7 linked regions of the Homo sapiens genome follow. The protein of the gene in region 7 purifies or fractionates together with the protein of the main gene of each other region. This does not show direct contact. Each region holds a gene or a part of one and is shown on either strand. Other genes may lie near its edges.

What was found.
Region 1: the proteins of TMOD3 (region 7) and SPIRE1 purify together in Homo sapiens (affinity purification with mass spectrometry; 2 studies listed by BioGRID and IntAct, with this or other methods). This does not show direct contact.
Region 2: the proteins of TMOD3 (region 7) and MYO5A purify together in Homo sapiens (affinity purification with mass spectrometry; 2 studies listed by BioGRID and IntAct, with this or other methods). This does not show direct contact.
Region 3: the proteins of TMOD3 (region 7) and TWF2 purify together in Homo sapiens (affinity purification with mass spectrometry; 2 studies listed by BioGRID and IntAct, with this or other methods). This does not show direct contact.
Region 4: the proteins of TMOD3 (region 7) and COBL purify together in Homo sapiens (affinity purification with mass spectrometry; 2 studies listed by BioGRID and IntAct, with this or other methods). This does not show direct contact.
Region 5: the proteins of TMOD3 (region 7) and INF2 purify together in Homo sapiens (affinity purification with mass spectrometry; 2 studies listed by BioGRID and IntAct, with this or other methods). This does not show direct contact.
Region 6: the proteins of TMOD3 (region 7) and MYO5B purify together in Homo sapiens (affinity purification with mass spectrometry; 2 studies listed by BioGRID and IntAct, with this or other methods). This does not show direct contact.

The regions. Positions count from the first base shown.
Region 1 is NC_000018.10:12,449,060-12,452,107, forward strand, and holds part of SPIRE1 (protein spire homolog 1), read right to left. Parts: intron 838-3,048; coding exon 579-837; 3' UTR 1-578.
Region 2 is NC_000015.10:52,522,381-52,525,880, reverse strand, and holds part of MYO5A (unconventional myosin-Va), read left to right. Parts: intron 1-1,678; exon of another isoform or gene 1,679-1,699; coding exon of another isoform or gene 1,700-1,798; intron 1,799-3,500. UniProt on the Homo sapiens protein: Processive actin-based motor that can move in large steps approximating the 36-nm pseudo-repeat of the actin filament. Can hydrolyze ATP in the presence of actin, which is essential for its function as a motor protein. Involved in melanosome transport.
Region 3 is NC_000003.12:52,232,659-52,236,158, reverse strand, and holds part of TWF2 (twinfilin-2), read left to right. Parts: intron 1-1,052; coding exon 1,053-1,130; intron 1,131-3,500. UniProt on the Homo sapiens protein: Actin-binding protein involved in motile and morphological processes. Inhibits actin polymerization, likely by sequestering G-actin. By capping the barbed ends of filaments, it also regulates motility.
Region 4 is NC_000007.14:51,314,010-51,318,297, forward strand, and holds the start of COBL (protein cordon-bleu), read right to left. Parts: upstream 2,801-4,288; 5' UTR 2,625-2,800; coding exon 2,584-2,624; intron 1-2,583.
Region 5 is NC_000014.9:104,706,618-104,710,117, forward strand, and holds part of INF2 (inverted formin-2), read left to right. Parts: intron 1-292; coding exon 293-434; intron 435-635; coding exon 636-1,385; intron 1,386-1,818; coding exon 1,819-1,970; intron 1,971-2,053; coding exon 2,054-2,115; intron 2,116-2,663; coding exon 2,664-2,766; intron 2,767-3,002; coding exon 3,003-3,088; intron 3,089-3,470; coding exon 3,471-3,500.
Region 6 is NC_000018.10:49,901,648-49,905,147, reverse strand, and holds part of MYO5B (unconventional myosin-Vb), read left to right. Parts: intron 1-319; coding exon 320-476; intron 477-2,314; coding exon 2,315-2,554; intron 2,555-3,500. UniProt on the Homo sapiens protein: May be involved in vesicular trafficking via its association with the CART complex. The CART complex is necessary for efficient transferrin receptor recycling but not for EGFR degradation.
Region 7 is NC_000015.10:51,832,653-51,836,152, reverse strand, and holds part of TMOD3 (tropomodulin-3), read right to left. Parts: intron 1-3,500. UniProt on the Homo sapiens protein: Blocks the elongation and depolymerization of the actin filaments at the pointed end. The Tmod/TM complex contributes to the formation of the short actin protofilament, which in turn defines the geometry of the membrane skeleton.

The sequences.
Region 1 (3,048 bases), on a different chromosome or scaffold from region 7:
GCAGGCAAAAAGTCCCTTATGTAATTTTTATCTCCAAGCAACAACATTTAAAAATCAGTTGAAGAGTGTCAGCAGGTGCTTCTAGGTTCTGTGCTGTGAGCCCCCAGGTCGTGGAGTGTAGGGCTCTGGATCTCTCTGTACACGGGATAGAAACACAGTCACGTGGAAATGCCAATATGACTTACTGCTTAGGGCTGTGCTGACATCGGCATCTCTGTTAGACTGATTCTCGTAGGAGAAGCTTTTTTTTTTTGCCTTAGTCAGGAGATTATTCGAGGAACAGTAAAGAACTGAACTAAGGAAGTAGCTACTGGCTTCCAAAGCCACACACACACAAAAGTAAGTTTCAAACTGTTGTCCTCTCTCAGTGCAAACGAGCAATTGGCGGACCTGTCACGTTTCATCAATCGATACGAACACAGCATTCAGTCTGTGGAACAATGTGATGCGGCAAAAATCTGATCTAATGCAAATTCAAGCCCATTAAATAAAACCACAGAAAGGAGAGCCAGCCCGGCTCAGTGTCCTCGCGCACGGACGCTGACTCGTAGCACAAAAGCAGCTGAAAGGCACGAGGCTCAGATCTCACTGATCGTCCTCTCTGAAGGGCAGTACTCCGAGGGGCCTGGCGAGGACATGTAGAAAGACTGCGTTTTCCTTTTCAATCGGGCCCTTTTGTTGGCCAACACCAGACTGCGCCGGCTTGAACTGATGATTTCCGAAATGAACTTCTTGCAGTCCACACACACCTCCATGGTGCTCCAGTCCTCCATCAACTCTTTGGGAAACTGGAGTTCTTCATCTGATTTGTCCATAGACTTAGATTTTGAGGAGAACCTGGGGTGAAAACAAAACAGAAGCCCAGCATTGTTACTTATAGGTCTGCTGCAATATTAAGAAAATATGTATAAAAAAAAGTAAATTTGTTGTCAAAACATCATGGAATGGATGAGTGATTTAATCATATGTCCTTCTAAAAAAATTTCTTATTGGTGACAAGGCTAAAAAATATTACTTAGAAAAGAAAGTAGGAGGCCTAGTGCGGTGGCTCACGCCTGTAATCCCAGCACTTTGGGAGGCTGAGGCAGGCAGATCACCTGAGGTCAGGAGTTTGGCGAAACCCAGTCTCTACTAAAAAAAAAAAAAAAAAATAGCCAGGCATGGTGGTGGGCCCCTGTAATCCCCACTTCTCTGGAGGCTGAGGCGGGAGAATCGCTTGAACCCGGGAGGTGAAGGTTGCAGTGAGCTGAGATGGCACCACTGCACTCTAGCCAGGGTGACAAAAGCGAAACTCTGTCTCAAAAAACAAAAAAAGAAAAGGAAAGAAAGCAGAAAACATGTCTTATTAAGACAGGCACTGCCCAGACTATCGAACAATACAGTCAGGATGGCTAAAGGTGACCCCAAGAAACCAAAGGGCAAGATGTCTGCTTATGCCTTTTTGTGCAGACGTGCAGAGAAGAACATAAGAAGAAGAGCCCAGCGGTCTCTGTCAATTTTGCAGAATTTTCCAAGAAGTGCTCTGAGAGGTGGAAGACAATGTCTGGGAAAGAGAAGTCTAAATTTGATGAAATGGCAAAGGTGGATAAAGTACACTACCACTGGGAAATGAAGGATTATGGACCAGCTAAGGGAGGCAAGAAGAAGGATCCTAATGCCCCGAAAAAGCCACCGTCTGGATTCTTCCTGCTCTGTTCAGAATTCCACCCCAAGATCAAATTCATAAACCCTGGCATCTCTATTGGAGACATGGCAAAAAAGCTGGGTGAGATGCGGAATAACTTAAATGACAGTGAAAAGCAGCCTTACACCACTAAGGCGGCAAAGCTGAAGGAAAAGTATGAGAAGGATGTTTCTGACTATAAGTTGAAAGGAAAGTTTGATGGAGAAAAGGGTCCTGCTAAAGTTGCCCAGAAAAAGGTGGAAGAGGAAGATGAAGATGAACAAGATGAAAAGGAAGAAGGAGGGGAGGAGGAGGAGGAGGAGGAGGATGAATAAGAGACTGTCCATTTGAAAAAAAAAAAAGAAATAATACTAAAAACTCTTAACCACCCTTCTAGAATTCTTGAAAAATAGGGTATTCATCTGATTCCCAATGAACATTAGCTAACTGTAGATGGCAGGTCAGACTACGGGAAATTCAAGTAAATTTATCTTAATCCCATGACACATCCTAAAAACTAAATTTTGACTAGTTTTCTCATCATTTATGTATTTATCAAACAAGCTTCTCCCTCCCCAACAATTCCCTGTATTTGTGCGATTATTTATTGGGATTCCAAGGAGCTGGAGATAACCAGACCAACATCATAGTAAATATTTCCAGGAATGTCTGAGATAACCAGGAATCATCTACTTATTTACTATTTTAACTAAACCAAACAGGATATAAATGGGTAGTCTATAGTATGTTCAGAGTTAAGTATGGAAAACTGTAGCAGCTGTTATGTGCACTGCCTTGAGCTCACTGAAAATTCACACCCAGAGGTCTCAGAGGAGGCAGCCCAAGCACAGAGGCAGACGTTTCAGGCACAAGGTTCATGCTGGGCTCACAGCTTCCTCGCCTCGCTGTCCACAGAGCCAGGACATGTGGTTGGTAGATCAAAGCCCAGCCTCTCGGCCCTGCCAGCTTGAGGCTTGAGCTGGCCTACCTCCTTCCATCTTTCTTAAGGCCCAACACTAAACTTACCCTGCACTAAATGCAAAGGGACTGATACTGAGGTGATGTTTTTTCTTTTAAATTATTAGCTCTTGGCATAAAGCTTTATTTCTGCCTTTACAATAATAGTAAAGTCAGTCAAAGCTATGGCAGAACATTGTAAACAGGATTAAACAGATTCCTTTCAAAACTAGACAAGGAGGAAAGGATGAGACTGTTACATTCCAATTTTCAACTCCATTGAAAACAAGGTCAGTTTTAAAGATGACTCTTACAGGACACAGTAAAACAGTTATTTCTAAAGTAGAAAAAAATATAAACTCTGTGATGAAAGTATCTTTCAAGTAGCTAGCCATTATTCCTTGAAAAGTTACCTTTGGGGAAGTTTT
Region 2 (3,500 bases), 690 kb from region 7:
AGGGGCATAAATAACCTGCTGTTACCTCAACAGCAGGCAGACAGCTGGTATGATATTTATTAGTAGAAGTTAGGGAATGGGTTGGGACATGGGGAAGGTTGGGCTGATTCCAGAGATAAAAACTACTATTGTAATTACTAGAGGAATAGGAAAATCATTAGAAGTATTATCAGTGGATAAGCACAAGGATCTTCCCCTTGCAGAGGATTATAGGAAGGAAGTTCTAGGATAGATTACAAGGAAAGATGTATTAGTGATATGCCATAATTATGGTATTTAACATTGTGGTTAAATCTGAAAAGTGCTCTTTAAAAAAATGTCATTCAGATCTTAAGGGCAGATTTTAATGTGTGATACAGATCAGTTCCTATTACAGTGAAGGACAAGAGACTGTTCAATTTCTTCTTTTTAGCCAGAATGGTAATGGTTTTGTCACAGCAATTTAACAAGGCTTCCATTTTGTAAGTTTTTCCAGCAGTATAAACATTTTAAGGACAATAGCTAGGTTCTTGGGATACTTGTCTGGAAACGAATATTTTGGTTAAAACATGTTTTGTTGATTTTTAAAAATAACAGCTTTATTGAGATATGTGTCTTATACCATATAATTCACCATTTAAAGTGTACTATTCAATGGTTTTTGGTTTATTCACAGAGTAGTATGTTGATGTGTTTGTGGTCAACCTGCCTTGCTCCCAAAAGAATTAAAGGAAACTATGATATCTCATTGCTTCTGATTTTGAAAATATTTGCTAGTCTTGACTTGCCAGTGGATATCTATATCATACATCATCCATAGGTGCTTTTGGTAACTAGAAGCAATTCTACATTTGTGGAGTAGGGTTTATCAATTAGACCTAGAAGGATTATCGGGAACATTATAATGAATGGCATGCTATTCCTCCTGTCATCATGTTCCCAGACACCATGGATAGCACCATGGTATCCATGCTATAGGATGGTCAAGATTACTTGAAGCTGGGTTTTTTTTTTTTTAATTTTTTATTTTTTTTGAGACAGGGTCTCACTGTGTCACCCAGGCTGGAGTGCAGTGAAATGAACATGGCTCACTGTAGCCTTTAACTCCTGGGCTCAAGCTGTCCTCCCACCTCAGCCTCGTGAGTAGCTGGGACCACAGCTATGCACCCAGCTAATTTTTAAATTTCTTCTAGAGATAGTCTCAGTATGTTGCCCAGGCTGGTCTTAAACTCCTGGACTCAAGTGATCCTCCTGCTTCCACCTCCCATAGTGTGGGATTACAGGCATGAGCCACCACACCCAGCCTATTTTATTTATTTATTTATTTATTTATTTATTTATTTATTTAGGTTCAGGGTCTCACTCTGTTGTCCAGGCTGAGGTGTAGTGGTGTGAACATGGCTCATTGCAGTATCGACCTCCCAGGTGCAAGCCATCCTCCCACCTCACCTTCCTGGGTAGCTGAATCTACAGGCATGTGCTACCAAACCCAGCTAATTTTTGTACTTTTTACAGAGACAGGATCTTGCTGTGTTGCCCAGGCTGATCTCTAACTCCTCAGGTCAAATGATTCTCCTGCCTCGGCCACTCAAAGTGTTGAGATTACAGACATGAGCCACCATGCCTGGCTTATTTTTAATTTTAAAAAAGTTTTAATTTTTTTGTTTACTTTTGTGTTTTGTTTTGTTTTTACCTGAAGCTGTTTGATTAGGAGGTTCCCATGTGTGCTGAGATGCTGAGTATTGTAACAGTGCAAAGACAATCTAAAATTCCACATTTGCAAAGCATGTTAACTTGCCTAGATGAAACAGCTCTTAAGGTCAGTAGATTGTATATGTGTAACTTTCCATTCCCAACATATCCTCTCATATATACAGGAGCCACATGGCCTAGATTTTTTCTGGGATAGATCCACTTTTATATTCTATGGCACTGTCTCTTCAAACTACTGATCTTGGAAATTCTAATATTTTCATGTCGAGACTGTATTTCTCAGACTGCTTCCAACATCTTAAAGAGGAACAGAAATCTCATCTCTGATCATGTGCCCTGACTTGGAGTTTGGCAAGGATGTTAGCTGTCCTCAAGTCTCCTGTCATGCCCTTTCCATTTGAATTTCCTCCTGGTGTTCCTAGGCCTGTTAACGACTTGCTGTTCTCCTAGTTCCGCAGCTTGGAAACCTCCGTATCTTTTTTCTTGTCTTTCACATTCGACTTCTTCTATATCAATTCTAATTTCAGTTGACATCCAGCTGATAGCTCAGATTTGGAACTCCCACTAGTACTCTTTTTCTCTGTCTTAATGTCCCAAACATGTTTCTGTCTTATTACGGTTACTGTATTTGTGTATATGTTTACCACTCCCACGATACTCTAAGCCCCCTGACATGCTGTTTTGTTTACCTCCTGTAGAGCCTAGCCCAGTGTTACACAGAATAGCTGCTCATTGAATATTTGTTGAATGAATACTTAAGCAGGGGAGGGATGGAATGAAAATAATGGTTTGGCATGATCAGTCCACTTGTAGGGACGAAGCAGGGTATAAAGATGTGGTTAAACAAGTAAACACATTTTCAGGCATGTTGAACAGGATGAGTAATAGAACTGGGAACCAGGGAGACCAGGAAACTTTCAGGAAACAAAATGTGAAGTGGTGAAGGTCTGGTGGACTGAGGCAGGGGCAGAAGGTGTGGGAAAGAAGAGGATAAATCCGAGAGACAGGTCTCTCCGAGATGGATTACATATAGGATGGGAAGGAGCAGGAGTAGTATGAAATAATGCCAGTAGCTCCAGACTTGGAAACTGAAAATTAATTCCTGTTTCATCACAAATTTTGACTGCCTCTGTGGAACTTGAATGCTACTAAGAAATACTTCTTTACATAGCTTGACAAAGCAAAATGCCCATTATTTCCTCTTGAAATTTGTTACTGTTTCTTGAAGTGTGAAAGTTTTGTGTATTGTCCAGAAAAGATTACAGAGAGATTCTGATTCTAATGAGAATTGCTGCTGCCACATATTTTAGATCTTCCTGGTACTTTTAGCTTTTTTTTTTTTTTTTTAAATAATGAAAGAGAACTGGAGGAAGCTTTATGAATGGGCTTCCAGGGATTTAACTGTAACCTCAGGGGAGGGGTGACAGGGAATGCTAACTCGTGTATGGGAGAATGTGGGAGAGGAGAGATGATCCGCCTTACTTCTTACCTCAGAAGGTAATTTAGTTTCTCTGTTTTTCATTTTATGATGAATTTTGCCTCCATTGGGAGAATTCAGGAGTACGTGGTCCACTAGAGGATAGACTTGGATGTATTTGTCTCCACTTCAGGCAATTCCCAGTGAAGTATGAGGTACTGTTGGAAGTCTAAACTTCTGATCTGTGGAGTAAGGTCTGGCCATAGACAAAATATTATGTGAGCAATTCCACTTCTTCCACCTCACCTGAAGGCATGTCCTCCATCCTACAGTGGTCTTCCTAGACTTATTCTATTTATCTTCCTAGGGAGTTTGTCCTTTTCTCCCCAGC
Region 3 (3,500 bases), on a different chromosome or scaffold from region 7:
TGGCTAATTTTTGTATTTTTAGTAGAGATGGGGTTTTGCCATGTTGGCCAGGCTGGTCTTGAACTCCTGACCTCAGGTGATCTGCCCGCCTTGGCCTCCCAAATTGCTGGGATTACAGGTGAGAGCCACCGCACCTGACCAAGATGGAGTCTCTTAGTGAGTTTCGGGGAGCCATTCCTTCTCCTGGAAGCTGCCCCAACTGCCTGAGGGTTAAGGTCATGTTGTCCCCCCACCCCCCACAGGGCTGTATCTGGGCTGGCTGTGGCTCCTCGGGGTCTCAGGGTTAGACAGCCTGGCTGGAGGGCTGGGACTGGGGCTGCACACATGGGTGTCATGCGTGTCCATGTGCTTCTGTGTACACTTTGATACATCCTGTTGCCTGCACACACGTCTCAGCCAAGCTCTGCACTTGCCTGCCTGTGTGCGTGTTAGCAAGCCGGGGACTATATCTCTGTGTGTGTTTGTGTATCTAAACATGCGTGTCCATTTGTGTTTGAGCAACTGAGCATGTGTTCATGTATGAGGGTGTTTGAATTTCTGCTCCTCTGTCACACATGCGTGTTGTGTGTTACATTCACACATGCTGGATTGAGCTGTGTGTGTGTGTGTGTGTGTGTGAATGGGCATAGTGGTCATTGCACAGTGGGGGCATTTGTCTGTGTTCTTTTTTCTGTGTATATGACTGTGCTGAGTGTGTCCAGGCCAGCCCAGAGCTCGGCCATCCTGCGGGGCAGGGGGCAGATGGAGGCTATTCACTGTGGCTGGCCTGGCTTATGCCAGAGCCTGCCCATCTTCTGGTGGGTTGTCCCATCCCTGCCCACCCCGCCCCATCACCAGACCTATCCCAGCCAGCAGGCCACTCGCCTGCCACCTCTGCTGGCTAAATTTGGGAGCTTGTGTTCAGTGGCTGTCTCAGGTTCCCAGTCACATGGGGGGCTGTATTTAACCTGGTTCCCAGCTCAGCCACCAGACCCTGTGGGACAGAGCAGGCCCCATACTCGTCTCTGTCCACTCTGCCCACTCATCCCCCACCATGTTTCTTGTTCTTATAGCCACGGAAGAGCTGAAGGAATTCTTTGCCAAGGCACGGGCTGGCTCTGTGCGGCTCATCAAGGTTGTGATTGAGGACGGTGAGTGCCCCTCACAGGCCAGGGTATAGGCTTGGGGGTGGACTCTGCTGCCTCTGTGGGTGGGGGAAGGAGGATGTTGGCCCCTGGCCTGCCGGGACCTCAATTTCCCACTCTGGAAATGGGTGTGAGGCCATCCTGACAAAGGAGAGCCTCACAGGGCAGCATCAGAGGTGGGCGCAATTGTCACCTCTGTTATGCAGAGCAGGAAGCCGAAGCTGGGGTCAGCAAATAGAGCCCTGTCCTGGGGTCCTGCCACCTCCCAGAGGCTGCATGGATATTCAGATGGGCCTGGCCAGGATGCCGAGCTGGGCTGGGCAGAGGGGCAGGGGATAAGTGAATCCAGCACTGCCCCTTGTGGCTGGTGCCACCCGCCTCATTTGTTGGTGGCCTGGCCTGGCTCAGCTGCTGTCCGAGGGGAGACCTAAGGAGATCCTGCACCCTTCTCTTGGAAGTGCCCCCATGATGGGGAGAAGGGATGAGTGTCTGGCTCATCTGAGAGTAGGATGGGAGGGTTCTAGGCTTGGCTGGGCTTTGGCCTTGCCCCTGAGGACCTGGGAGCTGTATAGAGGGCAGTGCTGGGGACACTGGGACTTGAGCTGAGGCCTGAAGTGGGGAGGGTTTGGGGAGGCAGAGGATTAAACTGAGGAGGATTGGGAGGTCAGAGGCCAGAGAACATTTTTTCACCTTTCCTCCATGCCAATGGACTGTCCCTTTGGGTGAGGGGTACAGACTTTGGGACTGGGGTGGGCCAGGCTCCCCAGAGGTCCTCCCAGCTCTTCTCATTAGCCATTCAGCAGCAGGCACTTTGGATGGCTGCCTGAATGGGCCTGGTGCTCAGCTGGCTTTCCACGCGTTGTGTTGGCTCAAAGCAGGATCTGCCATTCCAGGTTTTAGGGCCTTGGCAGTGCTTTGCCCAGGGAGTCCAAATTCTGATGCCCTCAGAGACTGGGCAGGGGTCACTGTGGCAGAATATTAGTGATGGCTTCCTGGAGTGGCAGGCCACAGCCACCCCACCCTTAAAAAGGCAGTTGTACTCATTGACCCCAGTCCTCGGCCCTCCCTGTTGCCTCCCAGACAAGATGTCCCTGCAGATTTTTTTTTTTTTTTTTTTTTTTGAGACGGAGTTTCGCTCTGTCACCCAGGCTGGAGTGTAGTGGTGTGATCTCAGCTTACTGCAAGCTCCGCCTCCCGGGTTCACGCCATTCTCCTGCCTCAGCCTCCCGAGTAGCTGGGACTACAGGCGACCACCACTGCGCCCGGCTAATTTTGTATTTTTAGTAGAGACGGGGTTTCACCATGGTCTCAATCTCCTGACTTCGTGATCCGCCCACCTCGGCCTCCCAAAGTGCTGGGATTACGGGCATAAGCCACCGTGCCCAGCCGTCCCTGAAGATTTTAAGCAGGAGGAATCTCTGGATTGACTTTTATCTCAGTTCTGCATGACAGTTGTTGGGGTACCTGGGACTGCCCAGGAGGGTCCAGGCCCCCGATGGGCAGCCACTGTCCATCTCCAATTGAGGATGGCTCCAGTGTGGCCAGAGGGCCTGATTTTTCTAGAGAGGCTGAGAATTCTACTTCTTATGTAAAATTTCCCAGTTTGAAAATGTTAGCAACAAATTAAGCAATGTTGACAGTGCTGTAGGGGCCAACACAGGCCGTGACTACTCAAAGTCACTGTGACTGTGATCCTGTCTGAGTTCTGGGTGGGCAGGTGAGGAGGCCGAGGCCTCAGAGGGCCTGGTCTGTTGGGGCGTCCAGGCATCGGGGCCCCTGCCCAGATCAGGAGAGTCTGGTGGACTGACACCAGGACCCCCAGCCAGGCTGACTGCCCCTTTGCCCCAGTTATTGCTCCAGGCTAGACCTGTGTATACCCAGGCTGGTGTCTGGTGCCCAGATGAGGTCCCAGTCTACAAGTGCAGCTGGATGCCCCATTTCAGCCAAGGAGCTAGCAGGCCTGTGGGGCCTAGGCACTTAGATGGTGGCTGCTTTGGATCTGCGACATTTTCTTTCTTTTTTTGAGACGGAGTTTCGCTCTTGTTGCCCAGGCTGGAGTGCAATGGCGCCATCTCCTGCTCACCACAACCTCCGCCTCCTGGGTTCAAGCGATTCTCCCACCTCAGCCTCCCGAGCAGCTGGGATTACAGGCCACTACACCCAGCTAATTTTGTATTTTTAGTAGAGACGGGGTTTCTCCATGTTGGTCAGGGTGGTCTCGAACTCCCAACCTCAGGCGATCCGCCTGCCTCTGCCTCCCAAAGTGCTGGGATTATAGGCGTGAGCCACCGCGCCCGGCAAGGATCTGTGACATTTTCGAGGGGACTGCAGCTGGCAGGTAGCCGCAGGATGTCTGTTTATCCAGGGTCTGGTAGG
Region 4 (4,288 bases), on a different chromosome or scaffold from region 7:
AATTCCTAGTAAAAAACATACAATTTCAATCCAAGTAAAAACGTATATTTGTGTTTTTCACAAAGATAACTAATAACTACCTGTTAATAATTTAGCCAGACACAGAGTCAGTGAGTTTACATTCACCAACCTATCTCCCTTCAGTAATCTTCTAGAAGAGCGTTTGTAGGCCACAGGGTGAAATCTCGTTAATTCACTGCACCCAGTCTAGCTTGTTTCTATACAACACAAGGAGGAGTGGTAGTTTCAGCAACAGCAACAGCTTCACCACATCAGTTTGTTATCATGTGGGAAGACAGAGGCTTACTGAAAGTTTGATTTTATAATAAACGGTTGCAGAATCAGATGGAAAACAAATTTCCCTCAAGCACACTGCAAACACTGCCTTAATCTCAGGGAACAGAGGAGTAATCTCAGTGAAGAGCCAACAGAATCTGCCTGCCACCAATAATGTACTAAAGCCACAAATTTCACAGCAATATCTAACCTTTATAATTAGCAAGCATACACCTAAATTATATAAAATATTCGAAGACCTAACACCATTTATCTCCTCAGATTTGAACACAAAATTGCTTATTAAACACGTAATTCTTGTCTGAAAAAATATAAGGATATTAACATTTTCTTGATGCTTCTTCACTGAAAGTATTAACAAATGACAAAGTGAGAACAATAGAAGTTAAAAATAATATGTCTACATTTCTTGGACAAAGATGTTCGGACAAGTAAATTAGACACTGGATATGAGTGAGGGAAAGAACTGAATGCATCAGGAATAATTTCATGTTTTCCATAGCAAAAATCCTTAGTTTTACTTTGCAATTCAAATATGAAAGCCAATCAGAGCTCTGGGAAGCCCTGAGAAGGCCAGCCCTCGACTACCTCTTGCCACACAGTACCAGGCTGAAAAGAGTGCCACGCTCTTAGGGTAAGTCCTTTCACTTCTATCATTAGACTCCCTTCAAGGATCTTACAGATACTCTTTGGATACAGTTTTGCCGGCCTTTTAAATGTTCTCTCTGTCTTCATATTTATTTATAAGGTGATAGTGACAAAATAATTCAGTGTCCTTAAATAGGCTCATTTAATAGGCTATGAAAGCCACAGATTTAAAGATACCTCTGTTTCACATTTCCCTGTTATTTTGGGATGCCTATTACCATGAAAAAGGATTTCCCACATTTACTTTCTTTCTGGGGAATTTGTTTGTTCAAAGAGAATTATATAACCACCAGTAAGTGCACTGCAAAAAAAAAAAAAGAGAGAGAGAAAGAAAACTTCTTTTTAACATTCCTCAGCTTCAGGATTATTTGATTTGCTAACCTGGCTCACCTTTTCCTGGCATTAAAGGAAAACTTTAAAATTTTAAAAAGAGCCCGACTGAAAGTCTTTTACACACTTGGGCAACACGCCCGCCTATGGGCACATGGGCAGGGTGAGTCAGTGGGACACAACTGTAACAGAAAAAAAGATTTGTTGTCCCCAAAGCTGCCTCCTTCAAGTCCAGTTGCCATAGCAGAAAGTGGGCCCATTCAGTAAGCAGGTGCAGGGCTCACCCCAACCCTCATTCCATTTGCAAGACTCATACACATTTGCTCCAGGCGAGCGAGCGAGTTCGAAGGTCCCCGGCGCGCCGCGCTGAAAACTACAAAGTCCACCGGGACTGCGCGCTACCCCGCGGCCCAGCCTGCACCGCTGGCCGGGATGAGCACGGCGCACCTGGCTCGGGGTCTGAATAATGAGCAGGGCTGCTCGTCCTGTTTGAGGGAAATTACTCTTTCTGAGAGTCAAATCCTGAATGTGACGTGTAATCCCTGCACGCAAGGTGTGGGGATAGCAAACAGAAACCGGGAGAGGTTTGGGCAAAAGCGGAATCGCGAAGACAGGGATGGGCCGCCAGACTCGCGGGTCCGCTACGGATGTCTGCGCCTCAGGCCTGGCCCCACTAGGACGCCCCTTCCACTGCCAGGGGAGACCCTGGAATAAAGGCAGGGAGGGAGAGCTGCTGCCATGAAACCCTCCGGGCAATCCGAACACCTTCCGAGAACGCGGGGCCCGGGCGGCTGCGAAGCCGGGGAGCCCTCCCCTCCACGCTGCCGGGAGAGCCGATCCTGGGGCTGCCGCCGAGGCCGGGAGAGGGAAGACTTGATGGGAACCGGCCAGGGGCAAGCCCGCAGGGAAGAGGCCGGAGTCAAAGGCCGGGCGTCCCCTCGCTCCCCGCTCCACCCCTACGGCAAACACTTGGGGGGCCTGAGGAAAGCTCGGAGCTGAGTGGGGGCTGTGCTGGCGGGGACCCCCATAAGGACGCCTGCATACAAACCACCCCGCGCGAAAAGTGCGCTCCGGCCCCGGCCCGACACGGTTACCTGGGCAACGACCCGGGTGCCCAAAGTACACAGCACGCACCACCACCCAACACCAGCACCCAACACCAGCACCGCACCACCTGCTCCACCACTACCACCAGCACCCGCTGGGGCGGCAGAGAGGGCGCCCTGCCCGGGAGCGCGCGGTGCGGACGCGGGCGTCCGAGCCCAGGGAAGCCCCCTCTCCACCCCGCCCGACCGCGGGGCCGCTTACCCGGTCGGGGGCTTGGCCGCCGAGGCGCGCGGCGCGTCCATGGTGCCGGGGGCCGGGACGCGGGCGGTGCTCCGGGCCCGCCGAGTCAGGCGCTGGCTACCGCCGCCACCGCTGCCGCCCTCATTCACTTTTTCCGCGCTGACCCATCGTCCTCCCACGCGGGCCGGCGGAGGACAGCGGCGGAGCGCGGCGGACGGAAGGGGCTGGAATCGTCTCTAGCGGGCGGGGGCGCCGGGAGCGCAGGGAGGGGCTGGCGGCGGCGCGGGGCGGGGGCGCCGGGAGCAAGGTGCGCCGCGCCCCCGCCCCGGCTGCTCTGCCGCGCCCACCGGAGCGCCGCCCCCGCCCCGCCCCGCCCCGCCTGCTCAGAGTCCCGACCCGGCCCGCGGCGAGCGTCCGGGGAAGGAATCCTCCGGCACCTGGGCCCTGCACCGACACCCGCGGGTGCGGCAGAGGGCTTCTCCCCGTGCTCCTCCACCCCTGGGGGGAGCGCGACCCTCTCTGGGCGGAGTGGGGGATCCCGGGGCCGGCGCCTCCTGGCGGAGTTGGGGGAGGGGAACCACCTGGAGCCTGGAGGCCGTGCGAGGGCGAGGTGGGCGGACCAGCCCGGGAGGACTGACGTTGGAGGGTGAGAAGTGAGTGTCCGGCACCGCTCTCTGACCTTTATCCGTGCAGCAAATGTCTAGTGCGTAGGGTCGCAAAGTGGGAGTCCCGACCGGGAGCGTCAGGAACACCTGGGAACTTGTTAGAAATGCAGATTTCTGGGGCCCACCAGGTCCCACGGAATCAGAAACAGTGCGGGCTGGAGCGCGGCCTCGCTTTGCTAACAACTCACTCGCTCTAGGTGAATGCTCGCTTAAGTTTGCCAACCTGATTCACTGGGCGCTACTGTGGCACAACCCTGCCACTCCAGTGCGGGCTGGCGGGCAGATATGCAGGTCCTGCCGGCCACGCCGGGGCCCAGAGCAAGTCAGCCAGAGGTCCCTTATCTGCCCAACTTCACCTCCACTCTCTAAGATCTTGGTTGGTATGATGGGCTGACCTATAAAAGTGGCAGTTTCATATGGTTTCAATGACTCGAATAAAAGACCAACAAGAGGCCAGATCGGGCGAGCCTGATAGCGTTGGGGGTGACGCTCCCCTTGCGATCTTGTCATTGGATGAGGTATCCAGAGGCCTGCGCAGCCTTCCTCCCTCTGATCCCCTGCTTTCTCATTAACTGAAGGGGGGGCAGACCAGTCTATATGCAAAATGTGAGTCCTTACTCGTGGCTGGCAGATCTTGGGTGCTCCCTGCTCCCACCTAGAAGGTTTCCTAAGTCCCCAGGTGGCCCTGGGGCTCACTTCCCTGCAGCCCAGCCTCCCATGAGTGGAGCGCTTTCCCGGCTCAGGGCCTCTGGCTGGGATGCTGCTCCACAGTGCTCTTCCTCCTCCTTTTCATCCCGTGGTCTCCCCAAGGAGCCTTTCCTGGCCTCTCTGTCTAAAAGCACCCTGCGGAGCACAGTGGCTTACACCTGTAACCTCAGCACTCAGGGAAGCCAAGGCCGGAGGAGCAGTTGAGCTCAGGAGTCGGAGACCAGCCTGTGCAACCTGGGAGAACTTTCTACAAAATAAAAAAATTAGCGGAGCATGGTGGCACACACCTGTAATCCCAGCTACGGGGCGGGGCGGCGAGTGGGGAGCAGGCTGGACAATGGAGTGAGATCCTG
Region 5 (3,500 bases), on a different chromosome or scaffold from region 7:
TGTGTCCCCAGGTGGCATCTGGCAACATCTGAAGACATTTTTGGCTGCCACGGCTGGGCAGGGGGTGCTGTTGGCATTGAGTAGGTAGAGACCAGTGGTTCTGTTTAACATCCCATAATGCACAGGACAGTCCCACATGTCACCAGTACCACAGTCGCTGAAACTCTCATCTCTAGGGATCCGTGGGAATAGAGGGGGTGATGGGGCTGGACACCCTGGCAGACAGGCCACAGTCCTTAGTCCACCAGGGAGGGGCCGGCTGCTGACCTGCACCCCACACTCGCCCGTCCAGGTGAGCTGCTCCCCGGTGTCTGCCCAGCTCCTGTCGGTGCTGCAGGGCCTCCTGCACCTGGAGCCCACCCTCCGCTCCAGCCAGCTGCTCTGGGAGGCCCTGGAGAGCCTCGTGAACCGGGCCGTGCTCCTGGCCAGCGATGGTGAGGGGGCGGGGCAGGGGCGTAGGCACAGCCTGGTGGGCAGACACTGAGGTCTTAGACCATGGGGGGGGGAGCCTGCCCTTGGCCCCAACCCATCCTCTGCCCAGGGGAGGTGGCCGCTTTTTCCTGCCTCTTCCTCAAGCCCCCATCCCTCCCTCTCCGGCTCCCTTCTCCCTTGACCCTGGACATCCCCTACTGCAGCCCAGGAATGCACCCTGGAGGAAGTGGTTGAGCGGCTCCTGTCTGTCAAGGGGCGACCCAGACCGAGCCCCCTGGTCAAGGCCCATAAAAGCGTCCAGGCCAACCTAGACCAGAGCCAGAGGGGCAGCTCCCCGCAAAACACTACAACCCCCAAGCCCAGCGTGGAGGGCCAGCAGCCAGCAGCAGCTGCTGCCTGCGAGCCCGTGGACCACGCCCAGAGTGAGAGCATCCTGAAAGTTTCGCAGCCCAGAGCCCTGGAGCAGCAGGCGTCCACCCCACCCCCACCCCCACCCCCACCCCTGCTCCCTGGTTCCAGTGCCGAGCCCCCTCCCCCTCCCCCACCACCCCCCCTGCCCAGTGTGGGGGCTAAGGCCCTCCCAACAGCACCCCCGCCCCCACCCCTGCCAGGCCTGGGGGCCATGGCCCCCCCAGCACCTCCTCTACCACCACCCCTGCCAGGCTCCTGTGAGTTCCTGCCCCCACCACCTCCACCACTCCCGGGCTTGGGATGCCCGCCCCCACCCCCACCCCTGCTGCCTGGTATGGGCTGGGGCCCTCCTCCACCCCCACCTCCACTACTGCCCTGCACCTGCAGCCCCCCCGTGGCGGGAGGCATGGAGGAGGTCATCGTGGCCCAGGTGGACCATGGCTTGGGCTCAGCATGGGTCCCCAGCCATCGGCGGGTGAACCCACCCACACTGCGCATGAAGAAGCTGAACTGGCAGAAGCTGCCATCCAACGTGGCACGTGGTGAGGGTCCCCAGACCCCCAAGGGAAGCTTCCCCTAGGACGGGGGCTGGTCTCTGCTGGGGAGAGGGGCAGGTGGCACATGGAACTTGTGTGCGCGTCCTGCCCGTGCGTGGCCAGGGCAGCCTGGCCCTTGCTCTGGGCTCGGCGCCTGTGGTTGAGGTGGGGACGGGGGAGGAGCAGGGCAGGGGCTACCTCTGAGGACCCCCCTCCACATGCTCCCGTGAGCCAGTGCATCTGGGGTGCCATGGTGCCCTGGGGCCCTGCTACAGGTGCTCAGGTAGGGAGGTAGGGTGCCTGCTGTACGCTGGACCTGGACCTACTGGGCCCCAGGCAGGACATCCTTTAGACCCTCTGGGAGGCTCCAGCCCCTGCCTGCTGGATCGCCAGGCCCCGGGGCTGCGAGAGCCTCACTGGCCGTGTCCCCACCCGACAGAGCACAACTCTATGTGGGCGTCCCTGAGCAGCCCCGACGCCGAGGCTGTGGAGCCCGACTTCTCCAGCATCGAGCGACTATTCTCCTTCCCTGCAGCCAAGCCCAAGGAGCCCACCATGGTGGCCCCCCGGGCCAGGAAGGAGCCCAAGGAGGTGGGGACGGGGAGGGGACTCAGACCGGGGCCGCCTGCCTGGCCACCCTCCGGTACCAGCCTGTTGGGTGGGGGGTTTTCTAGATCACTTTCCTCGATGCCAAGAAGAGCCTGAACCTCAACATCTTCCTGAAGCAATTTAAGTGGTGAGTGAGGGAGGTAGCCCCCATCCCAGGCCACGGAGCCTCGCCTCCACCTGAGCCTTCTGACTTGGGCCCAGCAGTGCCCTCTGCAGGCCGCCATGGGAAGTGCACACTGCATCCCCTAGGCAGGATTGTAGGCGGGTAATAGCCCCATGCTGCCCCAGCTAGGGGCTGTCCAGGCTCCCAGGGACAGAGCGCTGGGACCTCCCCCCACAAGGCCACAGACAAGTAGTGGCTAAACCAGTGGGCCCTGACTCTCAGCCCCCGAGTCCTTTCCTGCTGCGGGTGTCCAGCACTGGCCCGAGGGAGCTGGCTGGACCCGACCCATCCTGCATCTCCTGAGCAGGGCCCATGGAGGGTAGCGAGGGTGGGAGTCAGCCTGGGTCCCCTTCACCGCGTGACCGTGGGCAACAACTCGACTGTTCTGTGTCCCCCCTGCCCTGGCCACCCCATGACTACGTGGGGAAACCCTGCCAGGTGGGGTCCCAAAGAGGCTGGGTGGGGGTGACTCATGATTCACTCACCCCTGCCCGGTCCTCTCCCTGCTCCAGCTCCAACGAGGAGGTCGCTGCTATGATCCGGGCTGGAGATACCACCAAGTTTGATGTGGAGGTTCTCAAACAACTCCTTAAGCTCCTTCCCGAGAAGCACGAGGTAAGAGGACCACCCCCACACCCCACCCCCAGTTAGTGCCACCAACCAAGGGAGAGGCTGTCCCGGGGGCTCCCAGCAGGGAGACAGAGAAGGGAGGCATCCCAGCCCTACCTCTGCCCTGAACCGTGAGCCACAGGGAGCCATGATGGGCACTGGAGGGGCTGAGCCCGGCGGGCAGTCCGGGAGGGCGGGAAGCTGGCATGGGGGGATCCCACATGCCGTTCTCCTCCTGGCAGATTGAAAACCTGCGGGCATTCACAGAGGAGCGAGCCAAGCTGGCCAGCGCCGACCACTTCTACCTCCTCCTGCTGGCCATTCCCTGGTGAGCATGGCCGCCCTCAGACCCCAGGGCCTGGGCCCCAGGTGGGAGGAGAGCAGGAATAGGGAGCAGGGCCCAGCCAGGGAGGAGAAGAGGCTGTGCCAATGGCTGCCCCGGGCTCCAGGAGCAGCATTGCAGCGGTTGGGCTTCTAAACATCACTCGAGCCCCACCCCCAGTCCTTCCCCTCAAAGTGTGGGGCTGGAGGCCTCTGGAGGAATTGGATCCTGCTCTGCGCAGGCCCGGGAGGGTGCCTGTTGGATGGGGCAGGCGGTGGAAACCCCCTCCCTTTGCCCACCACCCAAGCCAGAGCCCTGTGCTGAGTGCCCCTCTGGCAGGGACAGGTGGGGGGTGCAGGCCACTGATCCCTGTCTGTGCCATCCCCAGCTACCAGCTGCGAATCGAGTGCATGCTGCT
Region 6 (3,500 bases), on a different chromosome or scaffold from region 7:
TGAGGACTGCCCAGGCACAGTGAGGTAGAAGAGTGCTCAGATAAGGATCATAGAGGAAGTCAGACTCTGACTGAGTTTGAAGCTTGTGGGAAGCCTTTCGAGACCATAAGGAAAGAACTAACACTGCTTTTCTAGCCACAACGTCAAATGCCTAAGGCATTGCTACATTTGTTAGGGGTGAAGAGAGTTGGTTTCCCCTGGGTGTGTCCAGGTAGGGCCACAGAGGGAGAGGTTTGCATTTGCAGATGTCTCAGGGTTCTCTGCATCAGGGCGGTCAATACTCTCTCCCTGACACTGCCTGTTTCCTCTTGCTCCCCAGGCTGGCTGAGCACCTGCGGAGGATCAGAGCGGCTGTGGTGCTCCAGAAACATTACCGCATGCAGAGGGCCCGCCAGGCCTACCAGAGGGTCCGCAGAGCTGCCGTTGTTATCCAGGCCTTCACCCGGGCCATGTTTGTGCGGAGAACCTACCGCCAGGTGAGTAGCCACTCTGAGGGCCTCAGGGCTGCAGATTCAGAACTAAAGTGGCAACAGATGAATTACTGCCAACGTGAACCTCTGTCAAGCACTCCCAACTTTTTTCTAAATGCTTTCACATCTCTGCTCTCACCAAATCCTTTCTGAAGTCCCACAAGGTAGGAAGGGTGTGCATACTGTTGTCTTAGTCCATTAAATGTTGCTATAACAATATCTGAGGCTGGGTGATTTATGAAGAAAAGAGGTTTATTTGGCTCACAATTCTGGTGGCCAGAAAGTTCACAATTGAACATCTGCTTCTGGAGAGGGCCTCAGGCTGCTTCCACTCATGGTGGGAGGTGGAAGCCGGTGTGTGCAGAGGTCGCATGGTGAGAGAGGAAGCACAAGAGTGGCTCTTTTAACAAGCAGCTCTAATGAGAACTAACAGTGAGAAATCACCCTTGAAGAAGGGCATTTATTTGTTCATGAGGGATCTGCCTCTATGACTCAAACATCTCCTGTTAGACTCCATCTCCAACATAGGGGATCAGATTTCAACATGAGTTTTGAAGGGGCCCAGCATCCAATCATGGCAGTTTTCACACCCCTTCTGATACCTGAGTTGCTCAGAGAAGCCAGGTCACCTGCCTGAGGGCCCAGGCCAGCCAACAGCAGGGCCAGGTGACCCACCTAGGGCTCATTCACACTTGAGGGCAGGCGGTGGTATTGGGCATCATCAGGTCTAACTCCTCCACTTAACGGATCAGGAGCTTGAAGCCCAACATGGTGAGGTCAGGAGGGAGGCCCCGACCTCTTCCCTGCCAGGTTCTTGCTCTTTGTGTTGTTCCAGTGAAGCCAAAACCCTTGGGTTCAGGAGCCCCACATCAGGACACATCTGTTCAACCAGGTAACACCAACACATCTGAAGCACAGAGCTGACTTGAAACACGAATTGGAAGGAAATGTCTAAAATGGTTTTCTTTTTCATTAAATGAACATCTGTCTCTTCTATGATCACAGAAGGTGTGATTTTCTAAATAATAAAAGTAAAGCACGAAATTGATAATAATAAAAATGTGGTCAGGGTGGAGCACACCCTGGTGTAGTATGTAGAGAAACCCAGGCCATTGGGAGAAGGTTCTGTGAGTGTTCTTGGGTGATGGGTGGCGTTGGTGTGCTGCTCCCATGGAAGGGGCAGGTGATGTTTGGGAGTTTCTCAGCAGGGGCAGCATGTGCAAAGAGTGAGCACTGATGTGGCTCCCAGCTCTGTCACTCATGGCTGTGGCACTGTTCATTGCTCAGCCTGTTTGCTTGTTTACTCATTTATTCCACAAACATTTATTTTACCAGGTATTAGGGCGAGCACACTGATGATGCTTTCATATCCTGAGTGGTTTTTTAACTTGGTAGAAAAAAAAAAACAGTGAATTACACACCAAGTTTGTAATTATAAGCCATTAGCCTGCTGTGGACACTCACTGAAGTATCTCACTTCCAGCTCAGTGCCACCAGGAGGGGACCTCCACCTGGTAAATGGGTAGAGAGCAAGTGGATGATCATTAGGCCCCTACAACCTTGAGGTTTTCAGACTGTGGTTTCCTAACCCATAAAACAAAAAGTAAAACAAAGCTGAAAAGAGTTTGACAGCTGATTCCCTGTGGATATGTAGGCGCAGAACCTCGCTGAAATGTGTTATAAAACAACCACCAAAGCCTTAGATCTTAGGGGGCACATTGTCTGTGTAACTCCTAGAACCAAGGCTGCCCTGGCCTCTTCCCTCCACAGGCAGTGATGTATGCTTCCTTCACTCCTGTCCTGCAGTGCAAACCCACAAGATGTGTATCCTTGTTTCCCGCCAGGTCCTCATGGAGCACAAGGCCACCACCATCCAGAAGCACGTGCGGGGCTGGATGGCACGCAGGCACTTCCAGCGGCTGCGGGATGCAGCCATTGTCATCCAGTGTGCCTTCCGGATGCTCAAGGCCAGGCGGGAGCTGAAGGCCCTCAGGATTGAGGCCCGCTCAGCAGAGCATCTGAAACGTCTCAACGTGGGCATGGAGAACAAGGTGGTCCAGCTGCAGCGGAAGATCGATGAGCAGGTCAGTGTCTGCAGCTCCCTACCTGGGTGTCGGGGGCTTGGGTACTGGAGCATTTTGAGAGAGCCCACAGCTTCCTTGAGGAACTGCACATGCCGAAGACCCGAGGGAGCACAGACGTCCTCAGACCACAGCAGATACTAACTGTGGCAGGCAGATCAGTGACCCCTAAAGATACCCTCAGCCCTGGGATCTGTGAGTGTGTTACCTTATATGGCAAAAGGGACTTTGCAGATGCAATTAAATTAAGAACTGTAGGATGGGAAGAGTATCCTGGGTGAGCCAGGTGAGCTTGATATAACAGGGGTCCTCCTAAGAGGGAGGCTGGAGGATCAAGTTCAGAGAAGAAGTGATGACAGAATCAGAGGTGGGAGGGATGCAGGCAGCCTTGAGAAGCCAGAGAAGACGAAGACATGGACTCTCCCCTAGAGCGTCCAGAAAGAATGCAGCCGTGCCAACCCCTTCAGACTCCTGACCTCCAGAGCTGTAAGATAATGATTTATGCTATCTTGAGTCATAACTTGGTGGTAACTTGTTGCAGCAGCAATAGGAAACTGACACACTAGCCCAAGGTGCTGGTGTTTTGCCCTTGCAGGGGTGACATAGGGTAATGCAGCAGCAGCTGGTGTGCATGGAGGGCTTGCTGTGTGGGGTATGGGGCTGGCGCTTTGACTGGAGTAGCTTGTCTAATATAGCGGCCCTCCTACGGCAAGTATTACCATCCCCCTTTTTGTACAATTGAAGACACTGGAAGGGCACATGGCATCCTAAAGTCACACAGGTGGCAGTGGCAGGGCCGAGGTTTGAACCCCAGCTGTCTGGCTCCAGAGCCCATGCTCTGCATCACTTTGCCCTTCTGTCTCTCTGTCTGCCTATCTGTCTGTCTGCCTCTTTTGGAAAGAGTGTTTGCTTTGGAAATCAGAATTCAGTTCTTCTGCTTAAAAGTTGA
Region 7 (3,500 bases):
CGAATTATATCTCACTAAAGCTGTTATATGTTAGAGAAAGGGGGAAGGAATGAATAAGGAAACCAAAGTTGTCCTGCATTTCCACAGAAAGGTAATCCTGTCTTTGAAAATCTTAGCTTTTTTCTGCTTCTATTTTAGTTAAGCTTTAGGATTCAAGACTCCTCACTGGTAAGTCCCCAGTTGTCTTTTCTCCATCTCTAATCTTTGTCTTTACTAACAAGGGTGATCTACCTAAGGGAGACAGCATTCACTAGTTACAACTCAATCTCTGAACAAAAAACAATATGCACACTATGATTACAATCATATAAAAATACGTATGAGAATGAATCAGGCCTGGAAAGAAATGAGGAAAAGTAAAAATAGCTACATAAGAATAATGAGGTTGGGGTGACATTCTTTTTAAAACTTAGTGTATTATCAGCAAATAAACTTAGAAGAAAAAAATAACCAAACTGTCTCCCTAAAAATTGTTCCAAGGCAAATTCAGAAATTGCATCACAAAGGATTGGAATAGACAATGGAGTAGAAACATGGAAACTAAGGCTGGGTGTGGTGGCTCACGCCTGTAATCCCAGCACTTTGGGATGCCAAGGTGAGCAGTTTGCTTGAGCTCAGGAGTTCAAGGACAGCCTGGGAAACATGATGAAACTCCATCTCTACTAAACATACAAAAATTAGCCAGTTATGGTGGTGCATGCCTGTAGTCCCAGCTATTAATACTTGAGAGGCTGAGGCTGACGGACTGCTTGAGCCCAGGAGGTCGAGGCTGCAGTGAGCCAAGATCACACTACTGCACTCCAAACTGGGTGACAAATTGAGACCTTGTCTCAAAACAAAACAAAACAGAAAAAGATGGAAACTAAAACACATGGCTTATATATAATTGCATCTATTTAGATCAAGCCAATAAACAAGAAATATTAAGCTCCCTATAGCTTGCTATGTTGGAGTCCTAGGTGATCTTTCCTTGCTTACATCTCCTTCATTCTAAACATCTGCCTATTTTATAAGGAAGATGCAATTGCTTCTAAAATGAGGTTGTCTCCATTAACTCGACCCACAGAAAAGCCATTTAAAATTCAAATTCATACTTAACATTCTTCCATCAGGAAATACATGGTAACTAGCCCTGGATCAATCTCAGTCAAGTCCCAATCTGGAAGAGGAGCATAAACATTTAATTTTTAAGGTCAGGGTCCGTGCTTAAGAAACTGACAATATAAGCACAACTAAAATGCAAAGTAGCTCAGCTGACACGCTAAGATGCCAAGTCAATCTAATGGAGAAAAACAAACAAAAAAGAGATGTGTTCTGTTTTGTCTTGAGACAGGGTCTTACTCTGGCCCTCAGGCTGGAGTGCAGTGGCATGATAACAACTCACTGTAGCCTCCACCTCCCTCAGATGATCCTCCTGCCTCAGCCCCCCAAGTAGCTGGGATTATAGGTGCATGCCAGTACTTCCGGCTAATTTTTGTATTTTTAGTAGAAATGTGGTTTTGTCATGTTGCCCAGACTGGTCTCAAACTCCTGGGCTCAAATGATCTGCCTGCCTTGGTCTCCCAAAGCGCTGGGATTACAGGTGTGAGCCACTGTGCCTGGCCGAGAAAGGGAAGTTTTTCTTAAACCTATGTTGCTGGAACAACTAGATATCTATATAGGTGGAAAATGAACCCAAACTCCTATCTTATATCATAACACAATAATAATTACTTTGAGATCAATCACAGACTCAAATGAAAAACTTAGAAAAATAAAGTTTCTAGAAGAAAAAGCTTTCTTTGCAATCCTGGGCACTGGTAAAAATTTATTGGTCAGGACAAAAAACACTAGCCATAATACAAAAAATTGATAAAACAGACTTTATAAAAATTAAAAATTTCTGCTCATCACAATATCATTGAGAAAGTAGACAAGGGACAGACTGTATAAAAAAAAACTGTCAACACATCTATCTCTATATGTGACAAAGAACTTGTACCTTGAATATATAAAGAGCTCCTACAAACAATAAAAAGATGAATGACCCAATGAAAGACTAGGTAAGACTTGAACAAACAATTCACAAAAAAAGATACTGCATAGCCAATTAACATATGATAAAGCACTCAACATTCTTAATCATCAGAAAAATGTAAATTAAAACCATAATGAGGTACAACCATACATCCTGTAGTGTGACTAAAATTGAAAAGGCTGACAATACTAAACATTGGCAACACTAAAAATACGGAGCAAGTAGAACTCAGTATAAACCACTTTGGAGAACTGTTTGGCAGATTTTTAATAAAGTTAAACATACACATACCCTATGACTCAGTAACTCTGCTCCTAGGTATTTATCAAGAAACTTGTAAAAGTATGTTCATAACAATCTTATTCCAAATATCCATCAAGGAGAAAATATAAATTGGGGTACATTCATACAATGGAATACTATTCAACAACTTAAAAGGACAAACCACTGATACTTGCCAACAACATAGATGAATCTTTCTTACATGAAAGAAGCCAAACACAAAAAAAGCACATGCTGTATGATTCCATTTATGTGAAGTCCAAGACCAGTCAAAAAATCTCTGTAGTGTCAGAAATCTATGGAGTCAGGAAGTGATTGCCTTTGGAGGAAGGTGGGTGAGGGAACTTTCTAGGGTGACTTAAAAAAAATGTTTTCTATCTGATTTTGGTAGAAGTTACAGTGTATACAATTGTCAGAACTCCTTGAACTGGATATTATGTGCATTTTATTGAATGTTAATTATACATCAATAAAAATACAAAGTAGCAATGTGCTTCAAGATACAGACTAACAATTTTGTTTCAAATGAAATTCAAGACTACACAAATGCATCTTCAGTTACACAGCATTTTCAATCATGTGCCATTCTGATTTATTCACACTTCTATTCTTTGATCATTGTAAATAAGCTAATGGATTACAGACACATATAGATAACAGAATGTATGTTCACATACATAATTTTTTATAAACACCAAATTAAATTTGATTGTTTACAATTTAAATAAGCACTTAATGGACCAGTTATAGGCCCAGTAGAATATTCTATTGTCTATACCATTTTTCTCTCCATATATTTGTGATTTTAAAGGATCTGACATAAAACTGCATGTAAATCAAATGTCAGCAAGGACTATCAATGACCAAGGGATGATAGCGCTTTAGCCACACGGCCTAGAGAATAATGCCCTCCTCATCTACTCTAATCGAGAGAGCTCATGCATATTAAAGAGCAACTGAAAAGTGTGAAGAGTAGTTTGCCAGCTACAACACAGCCTAAATATCAGTATACATCAGACTGACACCAGAAAACCTTACTAAAAGCCTTTTTTTCCTCTACTGTTTACTGGATCCTCCTCTTTATCTTTCTCCCTCCCTCTATCCAGGTATACTTTTATCCGCAAAGCCTCTCATCCTCCCTGTGATATTGCTCAGATATAATTGATTTTCTCTTTTGTTTTAGTTTTTGAGACAGGGTCTT